Homo sapiens: one gene and its partners. The protein of the gene in region 1 purifies or fractionates together with the protein of each later gene. This does not show direct contact. Each region holds a gene or a part of one and is shown on either strand. Other genes may lie near its edges.

Region 1 (3,500 bases):
ATAAATATTTGATGAAAAACTTACCTTGGCTTGAGGCTTTCAATCTCTCAGAAATTTCAGAAAGTTCCCTTTCAGCATCATTTAATTTTGCAACCTGTAACACCCAAATCAACAGGGTTACAAAGTTTTTCTTCTTTCAAACTGTTTTTCATCCTCCTGTTTTAATTATTCTTACTAGAAGTTTTAAGAAGATTAATTCAAAAGTCCAGTTAAACTGCTACTTATGGAGTTAACACTTTTTTTTTTGTTTTGAGATAGAGCCTCATTCTGTTGCCAGGGTAGAGTGCAGTGGTGCAATCTCGGCTCTCTGCCACCTCCGACTCCCGGGTTCAAGCGATTCTCCTGCCTCAGCCTCCCAAGTAGCTGGGACTACAGGTGTGCACCACCACACCCAGCTACTTTTTGTATTTTTAGTAGAGACAGGGTTTCACCATGTTGGCCAGGATGGTCTCAATCTCCTGACCTCATGATCAGCCTGCCTCAGCCTCTCAAAGTGCTAGGATTACAGGTGTGAGCCACCACACCTGGCCAGAGTTAATAGTTTTTTTTTTTTTTTTTTGAGATGGAGTCTCGCACTGTCACCCAGGCTGCAGTGCAATGGCGTGATCTCGACTCACTGCAACCTCTGCTTCCTGCATTCAAGCAATTCTCCTGTCTCAGCCTCCAGAGTAGCTAGGACTACAGGCACACACCACCACGCCTGTCTAATTTTTGTATTTTTTTTTTTTTAGTAGAGGTGGGGTTTCACCACATTGGTCAGGTGGGTCTCGAACTCCTGACCTCAGGTGATCCACCGGCCTCAGCCTCCCAATGTGCTGGGATTACAGGCATGAGCCACCATGCCCAGCCAGGAGTTAACACTTTTTATGTGTTAAATCCAAATTTAATTTATTTCTGAATTAAAAAACACAGAATTAAACAGAATGAATAACTCGGACTTCATTTTACTCAGAAGAAAGAGCTCAAGGCATTTGTTTTCACATAAATCAAAAGGATAGATGTTGGGTAATGTTTTAAGCTCTGAATCCTACTATAAATTAATACCTGTAACAAATTCCTTGAAGTGCAATTGCTGAATCAATGCATTTTTAATACTGACAGATGTCGTAGGATTGATCACTTAAAAGGTTGTATTGTACATTCCCACCAATTGAGAGTCTACTTCTCCATATTCTGGTCAAGCTCTGCATTATTAATCTTATGTTTTTTTCTAGTCTAATAGGTAGCCTATTACCTGCCTATTATTGTCTGTTACCTACCCATTAACACGTCACCTTGTGATAATTTCCTGAAGAACATACTGTTTCAGACTACATATTACCATACTACATTCTTCAAAATTCCTTTGACTTCTCTTGACTGCCAGAAGGCTAAAGTCAATTTCACCTCAGAACGCCCTAACTTGGAACTTTTTCCTTTCCTTTTGAGAGAGGTAATATCATATCCAAAGAATGTTAATTAATGGATCAATATCCTGAAGGAAAGGATCTAGCAGCAAGCCATATTTTTTTCAAACAACTTGGATAAGACTAGTTGTCTGTTACCATTAAATTAACAGACCACAAAAGTTATACTTCAGTATCAGATTTCAATGCTACTACTTTAAAAATTATCATAAAACATATTTAAATAATACATTATGTTATTAAAAATTAAACTATTAAATACCACAGCTACTTCCATAAATAAAACTTGCCAATGATTCAAAGGTCTCTGGCTTCTCATCAATCTTGCCAGCCTTCTTCATTCTGTTCAGACGCTTCTTCTCAATCAGGCCAGTCCTATCAAGAAATGTGTCATCATCACTATCATAAAAGTCTTCATCTTCCCAGTTCTTGGCTTTCCTTTTCCGAGATACTAGAGGTAGATAAAATGATGAATAAATAAGTTTTTAAAAAAGAAAAGAAAAAGAAAGAAGGCAAGTAGGCAAGGAGCTTAAAATGTCACCATCAACTACTGAAAGAGAGGTTCTACAAGCTGCCAAACTACGTATAAAAACAAAGGGCTAAACCTTGAAGACATTATACTAAGTGAAATAAGCCATATATAAAAGGACACTTACTGCATCATGTGAGATACCTAAAGTAGTCAAATTCATAGAGACAGAAAAGTAGAATGGTGGTTGCCAGAGGCTGGGAAGGAGGGAGAATGAAGTTAGTGTTTAACAGATACCAATTTCAGTATGGAATGATAAAAAAGTTCCAAAATGAACAGTGTTGATGGTTCCATAATATTGTGAATGTACTTAATGCCACTGAGTGATACTCTTAAAATGCTTAAAATGGTACACTTTTCTGTTATGTATATTTTCCCACAATTTCTTATTAAATAATTTTTCATTAAAGCAAATAGTTAATTTATTTAATGAGCAAACGGCTTTTAAAAATCAATGAGGATGGCCAGGCATGGTAATCCCAGCACTTTGGGAGGCTGAAGGGGGATGGATCGCCTGAGGTCAAGACCAGCCTCACCAACATGGTGAAACCCCGTCTCTACTAAAAATACAAAAATTAGATGGGCATAGTGGCGGGTGCCTGTAATCCCAGCTACTCAGGAGGCTAAGGCAGGAGAATTGCTTGAACCTGGGAGATAGAGGTTGCAGTGAGCCGAGAAAGCGCCACTGCACTCCAGCCTGGGTGACAAGAGTGAAACTCTATCTCAAAAAAAAAAAAAAATCAATGAGGAAAAAAGGAAAATGAAAAATGAGAAAAAGGACAATAACCCAAAAGAAAATTTGAAAAAGGATAATGAAAGCAGTTCACAGAAAAATACAATAAATATTTTTAAATATGTTACTTTAAAAAAAAATAAAGTACAAATTTAAAAATTAGATACTTCTCATCTATTAGACTAGAAAAACATAAAAAGATTAATAATTGGTGGGAATGTACATTGATACAACCTTTTTGATGGTCAAGCCTACAATATCTGCCATTAAAAATGCATTGATCCAGCAATTCCACTTCTAGGAATTTATTCTATAAATATCAATGCAATAGTATTTATAACAGTGAATATGTAAAGAGTCCATCAATAAGAAACTATGACAGCTATTACTTTTTTGTTCACCCTACAACATTCTACTCCCTTTGTTCTGATAAAAGTACCTCTTTCCCCTAGAAAATTCCTCCCCCATTTTATCTGGTTTAGGGATAGTCATAGGACCAAAGCCAAATCAGTAAGACTCTTTCCCTCATATTTATATTTAGAGATGGGGCAAAGAGGCTCTCTTTACAATGAGGTTATTAAAGTGAGAGACTGTTAAGTTCAGGGCTGTAAGCAATCAGCTTTTCAGCACAGGGTAAGAATCTGTCTGCAAAGTTTAAAAATGCACTCGTGAGACAGACTCACTCACAGACACACACACACACACACACACACACACACACACACACACAACTTGTATATGTCCTGGTGATGCTGAGTCTACTTTGGTAGTACTAAGTTATGGTTTCAGAACTTGAGGTTCTGGTTCATGCAGTTGTTCCTTCACTCCTGTT
Region 2 (3,500 bases), on another chromosome or scaffold:
CTTTTCTGAATGCAGATAGTCCAGACCTTTTAAAATTTCCTTTAGCATGGTAGCAATCTGGAACTCATCAAATGGACCAGCTCGAAGCTTAAGGGGAAAAACACACACACACATACACATATGTGTAAAAGTTTGGAAACATAAAATTCAAAATTGGTACCTTTGAAATGAAGAAATCACTTAGACACATGATGCCGTTCTGTTTATCAAACCAATATCTAAACAAGGAAGGAAAAATGTAAAATGTGAAGGAAGAAAGCAAAAGAGTTCAGTCAAAGGGCTGAACAGGTTTTTTAATGATTCAATTTAATGAAAGATAATACGAGCCCTTTTACCTATATACTAGGCTTCAAATTCTGAGGTTCCTGAATATTTACATCAAAGATGAAACAAATATGCTTACGTAATGACAGAACCAACTATCTGTTCTTTAGATGGAAAAAAAGAGAAATCAGCTACTTAAATTCAGGCAATTGCTGTGAAAAAGTTACTACATATTGACACGAAACTGATTTTTAGGTCAGAGAATCCATAAGATTTCCACAGCAACTATTTGATCATATCAGTCAGCATTTATGTATTTTAATAATATTGCAAAGAATAGCCTTTTTGAGACTCAAATTGTAAATTTAGCCAAGAATATAATAATTAAACTATTCAGACTATGATGGTAAAAAAAAATTAAATCATGGAGGGATAATGTTTTTCAAATAAATGTAACACATATCCCTTTATTTCCCCATCCCTGTACCAAAGCCAATAGTTCCAACTGGAATACAAGGAAAGCAATGATTAGGTTTCAGGAGAACTTGTAATGGAATATCTGAAAATCCCTCTTTAAAATAAATGGTTATTTTAAAATTCTGGTACCTCATAAAGCACAAACAGTGGACTGTACAATATTATTACAGGAAAGGGTGGGAATCTAAAGTCAGAGCAGAGGTAGAGTTCTGTTTGCTTCTGGAAGGAGGGAAGAGGTGGTGAAAATCAAACATTGCCCACTCTGCCTCACACTGGGAGGGATCCACAGCTCTTTGGCACCTTGTGTATTTCATCTTTCATGAATGCCATATTTATGCTGAATAAAGGGCACTTTCATGTTGAAATTTAACAGCTTAAAATAGAACTCATACTTTGGTCTCACCATCTAATATTAACTGTGGTCTGGGTATATAGTATACTCCAGGGATATCTGTAATTCAATAGGTCCCTTTCCTAGGTAACATTATCTACTTACTTTCAAATCTATCAACTTCCACCCCAAAGTTTCTATTCAAACAGTAGTGATTAAAATAGTTTCTAAAGTCTTCTAGAAAGGTTGAAAATGGCATACTATTTTGTTGATGGCTGGCAATGAACTTCTGAGGTACTACAAAATAACTAAAGGACAAATGTCACACTACTTAAGATCAGTAATTAGTATCATCTGATCACAGGACATTGGCAAGACCAGGGGAGGTATATCCTTGGTTATTTCAGTGATTGGGCAAGATTAATGTACGACCTACTAGCTATCATTCTGAAGGACATGTAAAAGTAACATAAATAAGCCAGTATATTACCTAATACAGAAGTTTTTAAAAATATTTAAGTAAAAACAACAAAAAGGGGATCCCAAAGATTCATGAGCTTATCTGCTATATTTTAGGTTCATGTTAAAATTCAATAAAAGTGAAATCTCAATTAACTGGGTGCTAGAGGAGGATGGGAAGAAAGACTCTGTGGCAGGGAGACTTCTCCATTTGAACTTTTCTCCGATAACTGAAGAACTTGCCATGTCTCTAACAGATAATATCTCTGTCCCAGGGCAGTGTACTTGCCTTGTGTAATTTGCCTCTGTTGTCAAGTAAGAATATGCAAGAGAGGGACCTTGACTCTTTCGAAGACTGTACATTTGTGAGCTCATGGATCTTTGTCACAATTTAACTTCCAGCCAGTCCCTAATGCAGTCTGCTATTTTATGCCCTCTCTTATGGTTAGCATATTGTTTCTTTTTTCTTGGGGCTCATGTTTTATTCTAGTCATCTTATTATATGTGTTTTTGTTGCAAGCCACCACGATTCTTTTTGGAAAGAAGTGGAGCATAATAAACTCAATAAAATGATGTGCAATATACTCAAAGTCTGCTCACATACAATAAATTGTTTTTCAAGAATGGGAGTGACTCAAGGTAGACACTGTATAATGTTAACATAAATGACAAGTTGTAATCTTATGTTATTCCATTAGTTAGGTACCAGGCACCAGTTTAATGTGAGAAACACTCTCTGCTAAACATCCCTCTTATTTCCTCTTGTTCTTAGTAGCAGAGCCTTCCTCTACACCTAATCCTGTCTTAGATTCCCCCAAATGATAGCATTTATTTGTACAGGAATATACATGAAAAAGGAATAGCACATTTTCTCATTATCTGCTCTCCCTGTAAAGTCTAGTTAAATGAGTTTTATAATTAAATCACAATATTATTGAATTTTAGAGCTAAGAACACAAAATTAGAGATTACTGATTCAATTTCTTCATTTAACATGTGAATAAATTAAGACACAAGGAGGCTAAAGGGCCGCCCAATATTTGCCAGGCAGTCAGTGTTAGCACTGGGTTTATGACCTAGGCCTTTTGATTCTTAACCAATACAGTACTAACAACATTTTTCATTCATTGAAACTGTTATTAATGGCTATTTGTTTTATTAAGTAGAGTTCAGAATAGCAGGATGAGATTAAGATCTCACAATCATTTAACTTGGAGATTTCATAAAACTGACCAAACTACTAATAGGGGACACAGATTTGGGTCATTGGTTGGGGTTAGGCCAGTGTTCACTGTTTAACATTGCTATCAGTGATCCTGTTGAACAGAGTGGCCTAGCTTTGCCAGTGCTTCCAAAATGGGGAAGAGATATGGTGAGCACCCTGAGGAACCAGATAAGACAACTGATAAATTTGGAAAGGGCTCTTAATATTCAAAAAATGGAAGGAGGATCATGAAACAATTGAGAGGCTTCTTGTAGAGCTAATGAAAAAACTATTGAATAATATGACTCTGTGACAAGACAAATAGAAATGAGATCATTTAACTTCAAGAGGAGAATGAAGCCTGACTCCATATGCATGAAGGATTATTACACAAAGAAACATCAGTGGTGTTCTCTCACTAGAGACGAGAGAAAAAAAATGAACTCAGGCTTTAGGATATAAGAATTAGATTAGACACAAGGAAAGATTACCAAATTCAGCAACTGATTAAACTGACATGAATTCCTAGTAGTAGATGAGGCTCTCCATCAAGTTTAATTACCATTTCTTTAAAATGGTTTAAATATGGTTCTGCCTAAAGGAAAGAAAATCTCTTATAGTCATTTCTGTTCATAAAATTATTTGAAGCTTTGAGTTACTGGCAGTCAAGGTTAAAGCCTTTTAAAAATATTTAATCACTTTCAGTTAGGAAAACTCATCTCCACCTAAAAAAATAAGAATTAAAATATTACTTGATTATTTTAA
Region 3 (3,500 bases), on another chromosome or scaffold:
CTGTGTGCAGTTTTTCAGTGATTATTTAGGGGAATAGGTAATGCATGCACATGGAGGAAAAACGTGCTTTCTGAAAATTGAAACACGGGAAAAGAGAAACGAGGTTAAAAACACCTCCTCCTCAGGGTCTCTGGGTACAGCCACATGACCATGCTCATAGACTCACAGCACACGCGTGCCTGGCACGTGGAGCTGGGACCCCGGGCGGGGGGCTGGGGTTATTACAGCTCACTACGGGATGAGAACCCAGAGGGGGACAGGGTGCAAGGGACGGAAACCATCGAACGCACCAAGTTCAACATTTACCAAGCACTTACTGAGTGCTGAGCATCGGGCTAAGCACGACGCACACACATGATCTTCCGCCCTCCCACAGCCCTGAGAGGTGGCCACCAATACTCCCTGTAACAGGTGAGGAATCAGAGGCCCAGGGAAGTTCTTTGTCTCTTCCCCAGGGGCTCCCAGCTAGTGAAAAAGGCTAAGGGATGTGTGTGGACTGAGCAGCCCTGGCAGGGAAGTTCCACTGCCCCTCGGGAAGGCAGCAGATGGCCTCCCAGCCTGGGAAGGGTCGGGGCAGGACCGGAGGGTCCCAGGAGAGAGGCTTCAGTGAGCGGTGGCTTCTGTCGCATCCGCCAGCGCTGGCTCCCCTGGGATGGGAGAGTGTTCCCCTTCTCACCCTCCTCGGCCCCTCCAACCTTCCTGTGGGCCAAGGCGTCTGGCAGACAAGAAGCCTTGGCCCCGGATGGGTGACTAGGCGGGAAGGGTCCCACTTCCCTGGCCATGACTTGGAAGGAGGTTGCTTCCTGCTGGCAGCATGTGCGGGGCTGGGCTCGGTGATGGGAGAAACAGCTGCTGGGGACACCCCTGACCGGTGTCTGGCCAGGAAGTCTGGCTCACCACGAGCCAGTGGGACGAGGAGTAGATGAGAAAGGAAAGGGAGGCCCTGAGGGAGGTAGGGACCCAGCGCCCAGAAACTACCCAGGGGGAACAGGTCTCCACGGAACTTCTGTCAACAAAGGAGCCTGGGTAAGAACCAGCTGAACAGGAATCAGGCCTGTCTTGTCCGAGCCAGTTCCAAACCACGGGAGGGCAGCCCCAGTAATCAGTGACACTGAAGCCCCAAGGCCTGGGGTTCAATCCTACCTCTGCCACTGCCTGCTGTGTGACCTTAAGCAAGTCCCGTACCTCTCTGGGCCTCCTTTCTCATCTCTAGAGTGAGGATGATACTAGCACCTACTTCACAGGTTGCTGTGAAGATGAAGTGAGGTAACAGGGGTAAAGCGCTGATGACCTCAGCTGGCACGAGGACGCTCCTCCATCACTGTCCCCTCGTCTTCTCCACCCTCTTCTGCTTGGACTGTCACAGCAGCCTCCCCACAGCCTCCCTGTCGCCACCCCCCGCGATCCGTCCCCCACACAGCAGCCTGAGCAATCTTTATAAGGGGAAAACCAGATGTCACTAAAGCCTCTGATGACTTCCCATTATGCACAGAATGGAATCCACACACCCCACCTGGCTCTGCTAGGCCCTGCTGTATCCAACACCGCCTCCAAGCCTCTGACCCCACCCCCTGCTCAGCCACACTGGCTTCTTTTTTTTGCTTTTTTATTTATTTATTTATTTTATATTTTATGTATTTCTTTAACTGCTCTTTGCAGAGCAAGGCTACCACACAGTCAGGGTGCACAGCATAGCCTACACCGGCCTATCTGATGATCCTCGACCATTCCGAGGTCATTCCGACCCTCAGGGCCTTGGCACTTCCGTACCCATGACCTGTTACATTCTTTCCACCTCCTTCCAGCCTCGCTCATATGTTCTCATCAGTCAGATGTCATCTTATCCAGAAAGCCCTCCTCAACTCCCCACGCTGGGCCACATGCCTCCTCGGGCTTCCTACGGTCCCTGCGCCTCCATCCCAGTCCCAATCCCTCTCTGTGCCCCTCCCCACCATCCAGCCCCAACCCCTCTGCCTGGGTTTCCCCATCCCGCCCTGACCCCTCTGCCTGGGTTTCCCCATCCTTCTCTGACCACTCTGCCTGGGTCCCCCCCAGTCCCACCCTGATCCCTCTGCCTGGGTCCCCGCTCCCATCCCGCCATGACCCATCTGCCTGGGTCCCACCACCCCACCCTGACCCCTCTGCCTGGGTCCCCCCCACATCCCGCCCTGACCCTTCTGCCTGGGTCCCCCCCACATCCCGCCCTGACCCTCGCCTAGGCCTCTCCTTCACAGCCCTGGCCTCTCTGGGCTGTCACCGTCTGGGGACAGCAGGTCTGTCTCCTTCACTGTACTATAATCTACAAGGGTAGAGCTGGGCTGTGTTGGTTACCACTGGGACCAACAGTCAGATACACAGAAAGAATGTTACAAGGCCTCACCCATCCTCCAACTTTCACCTCCGTCCTCCCTGCCTCCCTCCTGAGAGGTTCGAATCAGTATAGTTCTCTTTCCCAGCTGTCACCCCTGGCACCTGCCCCCAAGGGCAGTTGGGGCAAAGCTGCAGTCACCGTCCTGGATGCCCAAGGGGGTAAAGGTGAAAGCCCTTCCATCCTTTCTTCTCCTGTGGTTGTAGGGAGTCAGTGGGGACGAGGTCCCAGCTAAGCCAGTTGTGTGAACCATCTCCCCATCTGTTTCCAAACAGCCTGGTGGGTGGGTGGGTGGGCCCATAAACCTCCCATGTCACGGCCGAGGAAATCGTTTCAGTGAGGGCCACAAAGCTGCCCAAAGCAGGACTTGAAATAAAGGGAGCCCCGGAGCCTGCTGGGGAGCACAGTGGTCCAGCCACTGGGGGCATGACTTGGCAACCGCTAGGAAAGCGGGGAGCTCCGGCTTTTCCACTACTAGGCATATGCCAGAGAGACTCTGGCCATGGTCTACAGGAACACGCGTTCCAGAAGGCCCACTGCTGCACGGTTATAGCTCCAACGGACCACCTCAGTGGCCATCAACAGGTGAACAGGCAACTCCTGTGTGACACGATCACAAAAAGAAACACCATCAGGAAAAACAAATGGCCTGTCCCAGGCCTACACACATCCCCACCAAGAGACATCCAGACTCCAATGCTCAGCTCAAAGCGGGGAGCAGGTGTGCGCGCCTGTAATCCCAGCTACTCCAGAGGCTGAGGTGGGAGGATAGCTTGAGCCCAGGAGTTAAGAGTCCAGTCTAGGCAACATAGCAAGATCCCATCTCAAATATACCTATAATGTTGAACAAAAACAGCAACTTGCAGAAAGGCATGTTTATGGTGACACCATTTATCTGAACTGTGAAACAACAGTCGTCAGCCCCTGCTGGCCATAAGAACTGCCCAGGGAGCTTCCAAAAGCCTGAGGCCAGCCCCAGCCCAGACCAAGTAAGTTGGAAGCAGAATTTCCATGGCGGGCCTGGGCCAAGGCATCTTTTCAAAGCTCTCCAGGGAGTTGCAATGTGCAGCCAGGGGCAAGAGCTGTTGCTCTACTGTTGGTGAATACATTCAAGGGCAGTCAAAGTATGAAA
Region 4 (3,500 bases), on another chromosome or scaffold:
TTGTACCATAGACCACAAGGGCAGAAAAACCAAATAGATGAGAAGGGAATCCCAATAGGGAAATTCCTGAGGCGAGATGTGAGGGAATGAGGACTTTGCTACTTGGCAAATTTGAATGAGGTGGGAGCCCACATCCATAGCCTTGTCTGACCTCCCTCAGGTGGGGCTGCCTGGGGCACAGACACACTTTCTACTGGGACATGCTCTGCTTGCTGCTGGGAGGAAGTGGTGGGTCTTGAAGACCATATTGGGGACCAGCTCTGACACTAACTGTGTGATCTTAAGCAAAATTACTCACCCATCTGAACCTGTTTTCTCTCTTCTGTACAATAAGCAATACTTGTCTTGTCCAACCTACAGAGTTGCTAGGAAAACAAAGTACGATCATGTATGTCAGTGCTCTATAAATTGGAAAACGTTCTAGAAATAATTATTATTCCTAAAGTGAGGGAGTTTATCTCAAGGGTCCATCCTTATCTCAGAATTGTTATTACTATAATAAACCTTTTTGCTGAAAACCTTCATTTACTGATATTTACAAATAAGTCCAGCAATGCATTCCTTTGATTTTTATTCCTGCACCTTGGTCTTTTTTAAAATTATTATTTTTTAAACTTTTTCTTTGAACTCTGTTTAGGTGGTGGGTTTTAGTTTAGCGTTTGTTGTTGGGATTGTTATTTTGTTTGGTTTTATTTTTGGCTTGGAGGAGGAAAGTCATTGATTTTACCAAGCTGCATAATTTGTCCGAGCCTGACCCTCCTAACTCTAACATCCCTTATTTTTCCAGATACGGCCTCAAGGTGGACATCTGGGCAGCAGGTGTAATCACTTATATCCTGCTGTGTGGTTTCCCTCCATTCCGTGGGTATGGGCAACAATCTTTTATTCAGCGCCGACAAAGCATTTCTCTACTCTCTGAGTGATCCATTAGCCCTTCTTGCACAAAGGAGCCTGCAGCAGGAAAAGAGCACAAGAACTTTACTTGCAATCCCTGTTATTTTTTCCCTGTTATGTCATGCATGCTAATTTATATGCCTTCCATATTTCTTCCCCATATCATTAAAAACTCATTCTTTCTTTTTTTTTTTTTCTTTCTGGTTTTGAGACAGAGTCTCTCTTTTGCTCAGTCTGGAGTGCAGTGGCACAGTCTCAGCTCACTGCAACCTCTGCCTCCCAAGTTCAAGCAGTTCTCCTGCCTCAGCTTCCTGAATAGCTGGGATCACAGGCGTGCGCCGCCACACCAGTTACTTTTTGTATTTTTAGTAGAGATGGGGGTTTCACCATGTTGGCCAAGCTGGTATTGAACTCCTGACTTCAAGTGATCTACCTGCCTCAGTCTCCTGAAATGCTGGGAATACAGGTGTGAGCCGCCGCACCCGGCCCAAAAACTCTTTCTTAATTTACCAAAACAGATCCACATTGACATTTTTCAATCGATTAAAAATACACATTTTTACACATTTATGGGGGGAAAGGAAGGGCTCCAGTGCCTAAGACTGAAAAGATGTACACTGAGTTGATATCTTAGTGCTGTTTTTCCTTGTTGTCGTTCACCTAAACAGAAGTGGTGATGACCAGGAGGTGCTTTTTGATCAGATTTTGATGGGGCAGGTGGACTTTCCTTCTCCATACTGGGATAATGTTTCCGATTCTGCAAAGGTAGGTGTCCAGTGCCTTCCTCTTCCCTATATTCTGTGTGTCTTAACGGAATTATTTTTCCAAATCATTGTGTGCAAAGAAACTAATGACATCATAAGTATGATTTCTGTACACATTTTAGTTGTAATTGCTAGGTTTTCCAAGATTTCACAGTCATCAAGTCATCTGTTCCCAGACATCCCAACAAGTACTTATCAAGTGTCTCCATCTGCTGCCTTCATCTCTCTCAGGTGCCATTCCAGTGACATTGCTATAGCCTCTTGCTGTGCCCCACCCTCGCCAGGCTTGAGCCCAGCTCAGATTTCTATATGGCCTGTGGTTTCACCTCTCTCAGCTCTTGACTTAATGACTTAATTTCCCAGTGAAGCCTTCCCAGACCATCCTGGTTCCAATTGCATCTCTTAAACCTTACCTGGCTTGCTGTATCCTACTTGTCTGTTTTATTTTTCTCCAGAACACTTAACACCTGTGTGTCCATCTGGTGTGCTATCTAACTACCTATCTCTCTACCCAAAAAAAGATAGATATAAATAAGTAGGCATGTCTTCTTTATATAGTTCATTTCCAGACTCTCTCCACTAGAATGCAAATTCTGCGAAGGCAGGGATTTTTATCTATTTTGTCCATTGCTGTACTATCCCTGCCTAAAGTATGACCAGCATACTGGTGCTCAATGTATACTGAATAAATGAACAAGTATATGAATGAATCCATCAATTAATCAGAAGGAAGAAAACTCAACCTCAACGTAGGTTGAAATCATCAAGAAAGACTTTATGGGGAAGCTATGATTTAAGTTGAACCTTGAATAATAGCCAGGATTTAGAGGCAGAGGGGGAGGAAAACACAAGGTTCATTGTTTTTATCCCATGAAACTAAAAGATCAGTCCTTAACATGGATGAAGGTGATGGTTGCACAACAATGTGAATGCACTGAATGTCAGTGAACTGTGCACTTGAAAATGGTTGAAGTGGTAAATTTTATGTATATTTTACCACATTAAATAATATTTATGATAAATCAACTTCTAAGAAGGCTATAAAAATCTTACATTGAGATGTTTGTAGACCTTGAGGAGAAAAAGGAAAACCTTTTCATTGCTCTTTTTAAAATTTATGTCTCCGAGTGCTGACTTAAATGTTTAAAAATTTGAGAAAAATGTTCTCAATAATTATCTTGAGAAATAATTATCTTTTGATTGCTCAATGTTTATGCCTTTGCTTTTGTCATGTCCTGAATGTGAGTTCCCTTTAAAAGCCAACCCCTCAGACATGACCACTTTGTGTAGAAAATGATGCATATTGAGTGCAAGTCTCTCATTTTCTTCAACTGTCCAGGAAGCTGCCAGAAAGGGAGTGTCAGAGAAAGGCGCAGGCTAAAGGAGATGGGACGATACAGCTGCAGGGCCGGGGGCTCTTCAGGAACCTGTCCAGCTCCCCATGCCATCACTGCAGGATCTGAGGGCTCACAGTTACTGACAAATAGGACCATCTCCTACACCTCCATAGCACCTGCAAAGGGCATCACACACAGCAGATACTTTCACGAGTTCTGATCCAAGTTAGAAACTGAATGAAGAAGGCTGAGTGAACTCTCTCCCTCAATGAAATTAAATCACCCCCTTCCCGAGTGGTACTATAAAGCCTGTGTATGTAAGGAACTGGATAATGCATATCTAACCATTTTGTGACATGGGAACTTCTAATCCAGAGTGGACAATTGTATAGCATACTCATCGTTAAGACCCAGGTAGAGCATTCCTGGTCCAAGTCCATTTGAGCTCATGAGGAAGTTCCATTAATTTCAGGATGATGAAATTGTTTACCTCTCAATAGTTCTA

The links. The genes of interacting proteins can lie anywhere in the genome.
Region 2: the proteins of SLC4A1AP (region 1) and STK26 fractionate together in Homo sapiens (co-fractionation; one large-scale study listed by BioGRID). This does not show direct contact.
Region 3: the proteins of SLC4A1AP (region 1) and PAK4 purify together in Homo sapiens (co-immunoprecipitation; one large-scale study listed by IntAct). This does not show direct contact.
Region 4: the proteins of SLC4A1AP (region 1) and DCLK1 fractionate together in Homo sapiens (co-fractionation; one large-scale study listed by BioGRID). This does not show direct contact.

The regions. Positions count from the first base shown.
Region 1 is NC_000002.12:27,673,889-27,677,388, reverse strand, and holds part of SLC4A1AP (kanadaptin), read right to left. Parts: intron 1,858-3,500; coding exon 1,697-1,857; intron 95-1,696; coding exon 25-94; intron 1-24.
Region 2 is NC_000023.11:132,064,802-132,068,301, reverse strand, and holds part of STK26 (serine/threonine-protein kinase 26), read right to left. Parts: intron 88-3,500; coding exon 1-87. UniProt on the Homo sapiens protein: Serine/threonine-protein kinase that acts as a mediator of cell growth. Modulates apoptosis. In association with STK24 negatively regulates Golgi reorientation in polarized cell migration upon RHO activation.
Region 3 is NC_000019.10:39,128,786-39,132,285, reverse strand, and holds part of PAK4 (serine/threonine-protein kinase PAK 4), read right to left. Parts: intron 1-3,500. UniProt on the Homo sapiens protein: Serine/threonine-protein kinase that plays a role in a variety of different signaling pathways including cytoskeleton regulation, cell adhesion turnover, cell migration, growth, proliferation or cell survival.
Region 4 is NC_000013.11:35,806,383-35,809,882, reverse strand, and holds part of DCLK1 (serine/threonine-protein kinase DCLK1), read left to right. Parts: intron 1-787; coding exon 788-865; intron 866-1,562; coding exon 1,563-1,659; intron 1,660-3,500.